Homo sapiens: one gene and its partner. The protein of the gene in region 2 interacts with the protein of the main gene of each other region in a pairwise test. Each region holds a gene or a part of one and is shown on either strand. Other genes may lie near its edges.

Region 1 (5,237 bases), on a different chromosome or scaffold from region 2:
ACTTCAATTTTAAAAGAGCACTTTGTTTTAAACTCATCTCTTATTTTTGTTCCATTTCGTAAAACAGAATATCTATTAGAAAGAGGACACATCTGTATTCTGTCCAACACCTTCACCCTTGATTGGGGGCCTGGAGAAAGAAGGTAAAAGAGACAGAAATGAGCTTTTAAGGAAGACATCTTCTGCATCAAAGGAGTAACTAATCACACCAAAGACAAGGAGGTGAGAAAAGGGATCTCTTACAAAGGCCAAACCTCACTTGTTTGCCTGCATTGCAATAAGTCTCAGAGAGAAACTAACAGGTAGAGAGAGGTGGGAAATCAAAACAAAGCAAAAGGAAGCAGTGCAGCAAACACTCTGGGGTCTGCCATGAGTTGGGACACTTCTCAGTAGGGACACTGCCTTTGAGAGCCCAGCCTTCAGGTAGCTCTTGGACGCTCTAGCAGTTAAGTCACTGTCTTTGTGCCTGGCAATGTGCAGATGCTCAAAGAATGTACATGAACTTGCCCAGAAGAAGTAAAGGGAGTGAGATGACATGAGGAGTGGTAGGAGCCAGGGAAACACCAGCACTGAAGGAAGAGGAGGAAGAGGAAGAGGAGGTAGAGGAGGAGTTGGAGTTGGAGGAAGAAGAAGAAGGAGGAAGAGGAGGAAGGAGGAGGAGAAGGAAGGAGGAGGAGGAGGGAGGAGGAGGAGGAGGAAGGAGGAGGAGGAGGGAGGAGGAGGAGGAGGAAGGAGGAGGAGGAAGGAGGAGGAGGAGGAAGGAGGAGGAGGAGGAAGGAGGAGGAGGAGGAAGGAGGAGGAGGAGGAAGGAGGAGGAGGAGGAAGGAGGAGGAGGAGGAAGGAGGAGGAGGAGGAAGGAGGAGGAGGAAGGAGGAGGAGGAGGAAGGAGGAAGAGGAAGAAGAAGAAAAGAAGAAAAGAGAGAGACAGACACCATGAAGGCACCTGGGGAAAAACAGAGAGGTAGGAAAAGAACACAAAGCCAGGCCAAGCGCAGTGGCTCACACCTGTAATCCAAGCACTTTGGGAGGCTGAGGCGGGCGGATCACAAGGTCAAGAGATGGAGACCAGCCTGGCCAACATGGCAAAACCCTGTCTCTACTAAAAGTACAAAAATTAGCTGGGTGTGGTGGCGTGCGCCCATAGTCCCAGATACCTGGGAGGCTGAGGTAGGAGAATTGCTTGAACCCGGGAGGTGGAGGTTGCAGTGAGCCGAGATCGCGCCACTGCACTCCAGCCTGGCGGCAAAGTGATACTCTATCTCAAAAAAAAAAAAAAGAAAAAGAACACAAAGCCATGGGAGTGGAGACTTCCAGGGACCATGGTCTTTATCTTCATTCTGACTATATATGAGTATAAGCAAGCACCAAGGAGAGGGACATTTGGGACAAGATAAATCATTTGCAGTAGTTCTTGTAGGAACATGGTAGCCACTAAATTCTGAATCTTTCCATTTTTCTCCTGAAAACTTTACAAAACACCAAGAATAGCACCAGCACCATTACATTTTTGGTGGAAATAGGGGACAGAAAATCTACAAATTCCAAATTACATTTGAAGGCTGCTAAAGAAGACTTGGGTGGAAAGGTGTGAGGAGAATGGAGGAGGAGCTCAGAAATCTCCAGCAAAGACTCCCAAGAGAGAGCCTTGCCCAGGAATGACGAGCTACGAGCAGGGCTGGAACCAAACAGGTCAAAAGTCCTGTGATCCCAGCACTGTGGGAGGCCAAGGCAGGCGGAACACTTGAGGCCAGGAGTTCAAGACCAGCTTGGCCAATGTGGTGAAACCCTGTCTCTACTAAAAACACAAAAAATTAGTTGGGTGTGGTGGCGCGCACCTGTAATCCCAGCTACTCAGGTGGCTGAGGCACGAGAATCGCTTGAATCCGGGAGGTTGGAGGTTGCAGTGAGCTGAGATCACACCACTGAACTCCAGCCTGGGAGACAGAATGAGACTCTGTCTCAAAAAATTAAAATAAAATGATAAAGTAAAATAAAAATACAACTTTTAATAAAAGCTGGGAGAGGCAGCAAGAGGGTGCATGCATAGTGTGGGGAGGCCTGAGATGGCTGGTCTCAGCAAAGGCCAGAAACATGCAACTTCTGGAATTGAGTGGGTGGCTTTAGAAGTCAGGACTGTGCTTTTAGCGCTGGTAGCAGGTGGTAACCTGGGTTACCAGTGGAACCTCTAATTTCTCTGGTTGGGTACTAACTAAGGTGACTATAGGTTTTGGTTTGCCCATAACAGACCTGATTAACACTTGCTCATTAATAATGCTGAATTTCACTTCCAAAAGTGTCCCAGCTTAGGCAAATTACAAAGCTACCCTGGTCCTGTCTAAGTGCAGTTGCTCGCTATGTAGCCTGGAGCAAATCTTTTAAGTTCTATGATCCCTTATCTCACCGAGCTGTTTTAAGGAAAATATGTGAGCCACCTGGAGTATTTCCTAACATTTGCAGCTAATCAATACATGGTAGCAGGACCATGAGGACAGTTCTGTCCTTGTAGAATTCCCTAAGCAGAGGTCCTGGGGGCTGTAGATTAAGTGGCATCAGAAAAGGACAACTGTGTAGAACAGGACAAGTCCAAAACTGAGAAGTCTCTGCTTTACTTAGAGGCTAATAATATTGTAAAAGAGCAAGAGGAAAATACTTCCAAATGCCAGAATAATTTTACATTTATGATGAGAAGAAACAATTATTACCCATAAATGTGCTTTGAAATTCACATCAAATGACTTTTCCATAAGCTCATCTGGACAGTCAAGGAACTTTTTGCCTGTTACGATTCCGGCATTGTTGATTAGGATGGAAACATCGCCGACTTCTTTTTTAACCTGAATTGAATAAGAGCAACACCACCAATGTAGTAATTCCTTACATGGGCTAGGTTTTATTTTCCCAGAGTTTTATGTTTTTTTTATCCTGGTTAATTCATACTGAGTTTATGCACTCTAAAAATACAGCTTGGGGCCAGGCGCAGTGGCTCACACCTGTAATCCCAGCACTCTGGCAGGCCGAGGCAGGGGGGTGACTTGAGGACAGGAGTTTGAGACCAGCCTGGCCAACATGGCAAAATCCTGTCTCTATTAAAATTACAAAAATTAGCCAGGCATGGTGATGCGTGCCTCTAGCCCCAGCTACTCGGGAGGCTGAGGCAGGAGAATTGCTTAAACCAGGGAGGTGGAGGTTGTAGTGAGCCAAGATCACACCACTGCACTCCAGCCTGGGTGACAGAGTGAGACTGCATCTAAAAAAATAAATAAAGAAATAAATACAGGTTGGTTTATTTCCATTGCTGAGTCTACAATGCACCACACACCAAGTTTTTTTTTTTTTTTTTGAGATGGAGTCTTGCTCTGTCGACCAGGCTGGAGTGCAGTGGCACGATCTTGGCTCACTGCAAGCTCCGCCTCCTGGGTTCCCACCATTCTCCCGCCTCAGCCTCCCAAGTAGCTAGGACTACAGGTGCCCACCACCACACCCGGCTAATTTTTTGTATTTTTAGTAGAGACAGGTTTTCACCGTGTTAGCCAGGATGGTCTCGATCTCCTGACCTCATGATCCACCCGTCTTGGCCTCCCAAAGTGTTGGGATTACAGGCATGAGCCACTGCGCCTGACCTCCAGAGATCAAGTTTTGATGTGCTTTTCCCATTTTTCTCTTCTTAAAATGAGTCCATGTTCAAAATGCTACTTTCTGTTTACAGTTAGAGCTGTTCTTCTACTCAGTGGTTAGTAACTTTGTTCTGTGCTCTGTATGTGGCATTTCATTTTAATCAATATGATGGGACATAAGAATAGCTTCATTATAGCCAAATGTGACATAGATCAAGACCTCACACACGGAGAAGGGGCTGGATTAGGGAATAAATAGAGGAAAAGAGAAAGTACAGTCATAAATCACTTAACAATGGAGATACATTCTGAGAAGTGCATTGTTAGGTGACTTGGTTGCTATGTGAAGATCACAGAGTGTACTTAATAAACCTAGATGTGTGGCTACTACACATCTTAGGCCATATGGTAGAGCCTATTGCTCCTAGGCTACCCACCTGTACAGTGTGTTACTATACTGAACACTGTAGGCAACTGTTAACACATTGGTTAAGTATTTGTGTATCTAATCATAGAACATTGGGACAGTAAAAATACTGTAATAATCTGTCCCATAATGTGGGACCACCATTTTGTATATGGTCCATCACTGACCAAAATGTCATTATATGGTGCACGACTGTATATATTTTAAACACACAGCACAGATTAGAATCTGCCTGTCCTGTTTTCATCAACTGGCTGGTTTTCTTCTTTCCAAGGATGGACTTCCTGAACTCAAGGCTAAGCTATGGCCTAGGGATACAAGCTTTCAAAGTTATTGGAGACTCAGCAGAGACAAAACGCTGTCATATCACTCTGAAAGCTTTCTCTTTGATTGCTCGTCTAAGGGCTACTTCTTAAAAACTCTCTGGTATTGGCCGGGCGCGGTAGCTCACACCTGTAATCCCAGCACTTTGGGAGGCCGAGGCGGGTGGATAATGATGTCAAGAGATGGAGACCATCCTGGCCAACATGGTGAAACCCCGTCTCTACTAAAAATACAAAAATTAGCTGGGCGTGGTAGCGTGCACCTGTAGTCCCAGCTACTTGGGAGGCTGAGGCAGGAGTACCGCTTGAACCCGGGAGGTGGAGTTTGCAGTGAGCCAAGATCATGCCACTGCACTCCAGCCTGGCGACAGAGCAAGACTCTGTCTCAAAAAAAAAAATTATCTGGTACTTTCCTTTCTATCCAGAATAAAAAGTGGAAATGGTGGGTTTATAAGGATGGGGAGTAATTTCCTTCCCCTGAATTCAGAGGAGCACATAAGTAATTCCCTCAAGACCCCACAGTGATAAAACCTGAATAATAAGCTAGTAATATGACATGTTTGGCTGTTTCTGAAGTCAAGCACCTGGGGCAGAACTAAATCACAGTTACAGGGAAAAGGGAAGTAATTATTTATAGAGTGCTTCATACTAGTTTATCCCATAGCTAACAATCTTCATCGTTTGAACATCAACCGGTTATTGCTTAAGGCTGGCCAGATAAATTGTAGTCAGTGTAAGTCAACATGCCAGGTGATCAGTGCTTAACTTCTAAGTAGCTGAATTTGTGAGATCAGCTGTGCTTGGAAGAGTGGGCCCAGCGTAGGCCCGAGCAAATTTGTCAGGTGTGGATCTCCAGCCTGTACTGGGCAGCCT
Region 2 (5,237 bases):
TCGTTTTCATTTTTTTATAGACTCTTTTGTGCTTTCCCCTACAGTGGGTAATCATGCAATGTAAAAATCTACGGGGATGGACGTGGTGGCTCACGCCTGTAATCCCAGCACTTTGGGAGGCCGAGGCAGGCAGATCACTTGAGGTCAGGGGTTCGAGACCAGCCTGGCCAACATGGCAAAACCCCTTCTCTACTAAAAATACAAAATTACCCAAGCGTGATGGCACATGCCTGTAATCCCAGCTACTCGGGAGGATGACCACAGAAGAATCACTTGAACCTGGAAGGCGGAGGTTGCAGTGAACCAAGATGGCGCCACTGCACCCTAGCCTGGGTGAGAGAGCGAGAATCCATATCAAAAAATAAAAATAAAAATAAGTAAATAAATAAATAAATAAAAATGCTACGGGAAGTTAGTAACAATTGTTGCTTTTGAAGACTGGTTACTGAAGGGAAAACTCATTCTCCTTGAGTTTAGACACACATTGCCTTTTGAACTGAGTACTTACCTTATCATAAATTGGCTGTATTCCATAGCTGTTTACACAAAGACTCACTTAAATATTTGAATTTTTAATTTTTTCACAGCCATCTCTTCCTGTACTCTATACCCTGTCTAGCCAGGCTACACATGAAGCTGTTCATCTCCTTTGCAGGATGTTGGTCTTTGATCCAGTAAGTAGTGTTTTTTTTTATATATTTTTAATGAATTACAAATACATGTGTTCGAGAGAAACATTGTGGTTTTGAATAGATTGGCAATGTAAATAATTACTTTTCAGAATATAAACTTCAATCCCCAGTATCATGTGTATCATGCACGCTCATCACACAGAAGTTTGATTATTAACACATAAGAGTCTAAGGGAAGAGATAAGGAGCTGGATCTTATTTAACTCTTATTTCTTATTTATCTCATTATTTGTAAAAGGAGTTTGACACCAAGTTAAGTCAAGACAAAATGATTTTTTGTTTTGAGACAAGGTCTTGCTCTGTCACCCAGGCTGGAGTGCAGAGGTGTGATCTCAGCTCACTGTACCCTCAACCTCCCAGGCCCAAGCAATCCTCCTACCCGAGCCCCCTGAGTATCTGGGACTACAAGCATGCTCAGCTAATTTCTAAATATTTTGTAGAGAAGAGGTCTCACTATATTGCCCAGGCTGGTTTGAACTCCTGGAGTCAAGTGATCCTTTTGCCTCAGCCCCGCAAAGTGCTGGGATTACAGATGTGAGCCACCGCGCCCGGCCAGGACACAAAGTTTTTTAAGGTTATTTGAAAAAAAAATCTGACCATTATATTGCATAAGGAAATGTTTGCTCTGTGTTGTTGAGATGGAAGCTTTTCCCAATACCCTTTCTGGACTTGACTCTTCTGGAACATACTACAAATTATACTGTAAGTTCAGCTCTTCATTTATTCATTCATCCAAAGAATATTTATTATTCACATCTATGCCAATAACTATTGTCAAAGAAGACTTAAAAATGGAAGCATTTAGTAAAGAAAATTTAACTTGCCAAGAATACAAAGTCACCAAATACGAAAAATACCAGATATTTAAAAGATAAAACAACCACAAAATTACCAAAGTTATTAAGTTTACATTGGTCCATTTGTAGTGAGAAAGCTGCAACTTTCTCAGAAGATATCAAATTCACAAAGCTTCAGACATCAGCACAGCAAAGATTAGGGATAAAAATAATTCTGTTAAGGAGTTCAGGTTTGTGAGAAACAGTCAAGGTTTTTTTATTTGGGGGACCAGAACCAATTAGGGTGACCCAAATTATTTTTGTAATGTCTCAGGGTACAATTTAGATTGCTTATGTGTTTATTTTGGTGTTTTTTGCTGTTGTTTTCTTTTTTGTTTTTTTACTGTGGTGTATTAGTCTGTTTTTACACTGCTGATAAAGACATACCCAAGACTGGGCAATTTACAAAAGAAAGAGGTTTAATTGGACTTAAACCTTAAAGTTCCACATGGCTGGGGAAGCCTCACAATCATGGCGGGAGGTGAGGAGGAGCAAGTCATGTCTATATGGATGGCAGCAGGCAAAGAGAGAGAGCTTGTGCAGGGAAACACCCCTTTTTAATCTGGTCAGATCTCATGAGACTTATTCACTATCACGAGAACAGCACAGGAAAGACCTGCCCCCATCATTCAGTTACCTCCTAGGTCCCTCCCGTAGCATGTGGGAATTCAAGATGAGATTTGGGTGGGGACACAGCCAAACCATACCATGTGGTATGTGAAGTGCTTAGTGATACTATAAGCCTGACAAAGTGGCAGTTCTTGCTCCCACAGTCTCTCTTTGTGATCAAGTTCCCACTATTAAGGACAATTTCAATCATATAACTTGCTTTATTGAGCTAGTGATTTACTATCATTTGATATTTTGTGTTATTTGGTAAGTTTATCTACATAACTAACAGAAGATGTTGATCAATATGTTAAAAAACAAACTCCTTTTATATGGTTAACAAAACTAGAGCTGTGTGAAATTCAGGCTTCAGAGGTAATTTCTGTCTGACCATAGAGGATTTTATAAAGGGTCTAGGATTGAAATTTATGTGTTAGAAATATTTTATTCTCTATTTCTATTTAGATTTGGATCCAAGAACCATGTAACTCACCTCTACCAGGTGTGCATACACTGTTTAGAGCTGTAAGGCATCCTCTTTCTCTGAGATCCCATGTTTTGTTTGGTTTGGTTTGGTTTGGTTTGGTGTTTTTGAGACAGAGTCTCGCTCTGTTGCCCAGGCTGGAGTGCAGCAGCGCAATCTCAGCTCACTGCACCTCCACCTCCCGGGTTCAAGCGATTCTCCTGCCTCAGCCTCCTGAGTAGCTGGGATTACAGGCACGTGCCACCACACCCGGCTAATTTTATATTTTTAGTAGAGATGGGGTTTCACCATGTTGGTCAGGCTGGTCTCAAACTCCTGACCTCATGATCCACCTGCCTTGGCCTCCCAAAATGCTGGGATTACAGGCATGAGCCACCGCACCCAGCCTAGAGATCCCATGTTTATTAATGCTCCCGATCTGCCAGGAAGGTAGTGTTTACAGTCTTTAAGGCTGGAACTTCCTAAGCCATAGAGCAAGTAGTAAGCCCATTTTTCTGGGAGGTCTTTTGTACACAAGTTCTACATGTGACATGTAGTCCTTATTCCTTAACAGTGGGATTATCACACTTAATTAAATGAAATTTGTGGTGTAGTTGTAGTTATAAAGATTTATCTAAGGAGAAAGATTTATCTGGTAAGGAAGAGTATATATTCTTTTGGAACCTATGTAAGTAACTACATAGTCATTTAAAAATAAAGAAATTAGGCTGAGCATAGGGCACAGTGGCTCACACTTGTAATCCCAGCACTTTAGGAGGCTGAGGCAGGAGAATCTCCTGAGCCCAGGAGCTTAAGACCAGCCTGGGCAACTTAGGGATTACAAAATTAAAAATTTTTTAAATTAGCTGGGCGTGGTAGCACATGCCTGTAGTTCCAGCTACTCCAGAAGCTGAGGTGGGAGGATGGCTTGAACCCAGGAGGTTAAGGCCAAGGCCACAGTGAGCCATGAGCTCACCATTGTACTCCATCCTGGCAAGGGAGACAGAGGGAAACCCTGTCTCAAAAAGAAAGAAATTAATTTATTTAATGCACACTACATAATAATTAACCATTTTTATCACTGTGTTATAAACAAAGCCGACAAGTTTGTTACTTTGTTACAGAACTATTTTTAAATTAGCCTGATGCTTTATTAGCTTTTGATCTATATTAAGGATTTTTTTTATTTCCAGTTCTGAGAGTTCAATGAGAACAAGAAACCATTTAAAGAGAGGTTTGTTCTGATTTTAACCTGTTAAATTGAAAGTCAGCAATACATTAAGAAAGAAATGAGGTGTGTTTGTGTGTCAGGGTCTCACTGTGTGACCCAGGCTGGAATGCAGTGGCACGATCTCCGCTCACCACAACCTCCACCTCCTGGGTTCAAGAGATTCTCCTGCCTCAGCCTCCTGAATAGCTGGGATTACAGATGTGCGCCACCACACCCAGCTAATATATTTTTATATTTTTGGTAGAAACAGGATTTCACCGTGTTGACAAAGCTGGTCTCGAACTCCTGACCCACCTTGGCCTCCCAAAGTGCTGGGATTACAGGCGTGAGCCACTTTTTAAATATCCATGAAGAACAGACCATTGACCATAATTAAATCAGTGTATTTATTTAGTCCATTTAGTCTGAGGTAACTAGTTATTCTTGTTTTGTTGATCTTGGGTTAAGCAGTCTACTGCCATCACATGTCTGCTCCTGAACTGAAATGATGACTCAATTACTTGATTCAGTCTAAGAGCAGGTGTCTGTGGTGAGATACACATACACAGACAAACACAGACACACACACACACACACACACACACACACACGCTGAACATCCCTAATTTGGAACTTTGAGTGCCAACATGACACCACAAATGACCTGACCTCAGTGACAGGTCACCATCAAAAAGCAGGCATACAACACACAGTTTGTTCAGTATCCCCAAGGGAAAAAAGACCCCCAGCCTCCTTCAGCTGTGATTCTATCTTCCCCAAGCATATCCAGATTCCCCCATGCAAATGTGCCCACAAAGGGTAATAAAATGGCACATCTGCAGGCCAGATGCACCAATGACAGGTTCCCCACAATGTCCCACATGCTGCCAAGACCTATAGGCATTATTTACTGTATTTTTTGCCTATTCTGTGCTCTTTGGAGTAAAAATATTGTTGAAAATGTCAAAAAGTCCTGCAGATAACCCAGCAGGTAACTGATTTTTTTAAAAAGAGGAAGCATTTCTGTTTATAGCACAGAATGCCAAGCTATTGGAGAAACTGCACAGTGGTGTAAGTGTGAAGCATCTTACAGACAAGTATGTTGTTGGAATGATCACTGTATGTAACCTAAAGGAACAGAAGGATAAACCGTTGAAGTTCTGTCCTGAAACTCATGAACAGAAGTTAAAGAAAAATAGAAGGAAAGGGAAGCCAAGGGCTCAGAGAGGCCTGGGATCAGGCACATACACTGTCAGCCTACTTGTTCCTTTGGGTTCAAACAGTGGAACACTATCCCAGTGGAATCTCTAGGAATCGCTATCAAAGGACTCAGACTTTTTTAGAAAAAAAGAAAAGGAAAAAGTTTACTTGCTAAGAATGCAGGGAAGTCAGACTTCAAAAGAGCTAGATCACCAAATACAAAACAT

What was found. Proteins that work in one complex are often made in the same cells at the same time.
Region 1: the proteins of NLK (region 2) and SDR16C5 interact in a two-hybrid assay, tested with the Homo sapiens proteins (one large-scale study listed by BioGRID and IntAct).

The regions. Positions count from the first base shown.
Region 1 is NC_000008.11:56,309,455-56,314,691, forward strand, and holds part of SDR16C5 (epidermal retinol dehydrogenase 2), read right to left. Parts: intron 2,835-5,237; coding exon 2,703-2,834; intron 1-2,702. UniProt on the Homo sapiens protein: Oxidoreductase with strong preference for NAD. Active in both the oxidative and reductive directions. Oxidizes all-trans-retinol in all-trans-retinaldehyde.
Region 2 is NC_000017.11:28,184,592-28,189,828, forward strand, and holds part of NLK (serine/threonine-protein kinase NLK), read left to right. Parts: intron 1-587; coding exon 588-674; intron 675-5,237. UniProt on the Homo sapiens protein: Serine/threonine-protein kinase that regulates a number of transcription factors with key roles in cell fate determination. Positive effector of the non-canonical Wnt signaling pathway, acting downstream of WNT5A, MAP3K7/TAK1 and HIPK2.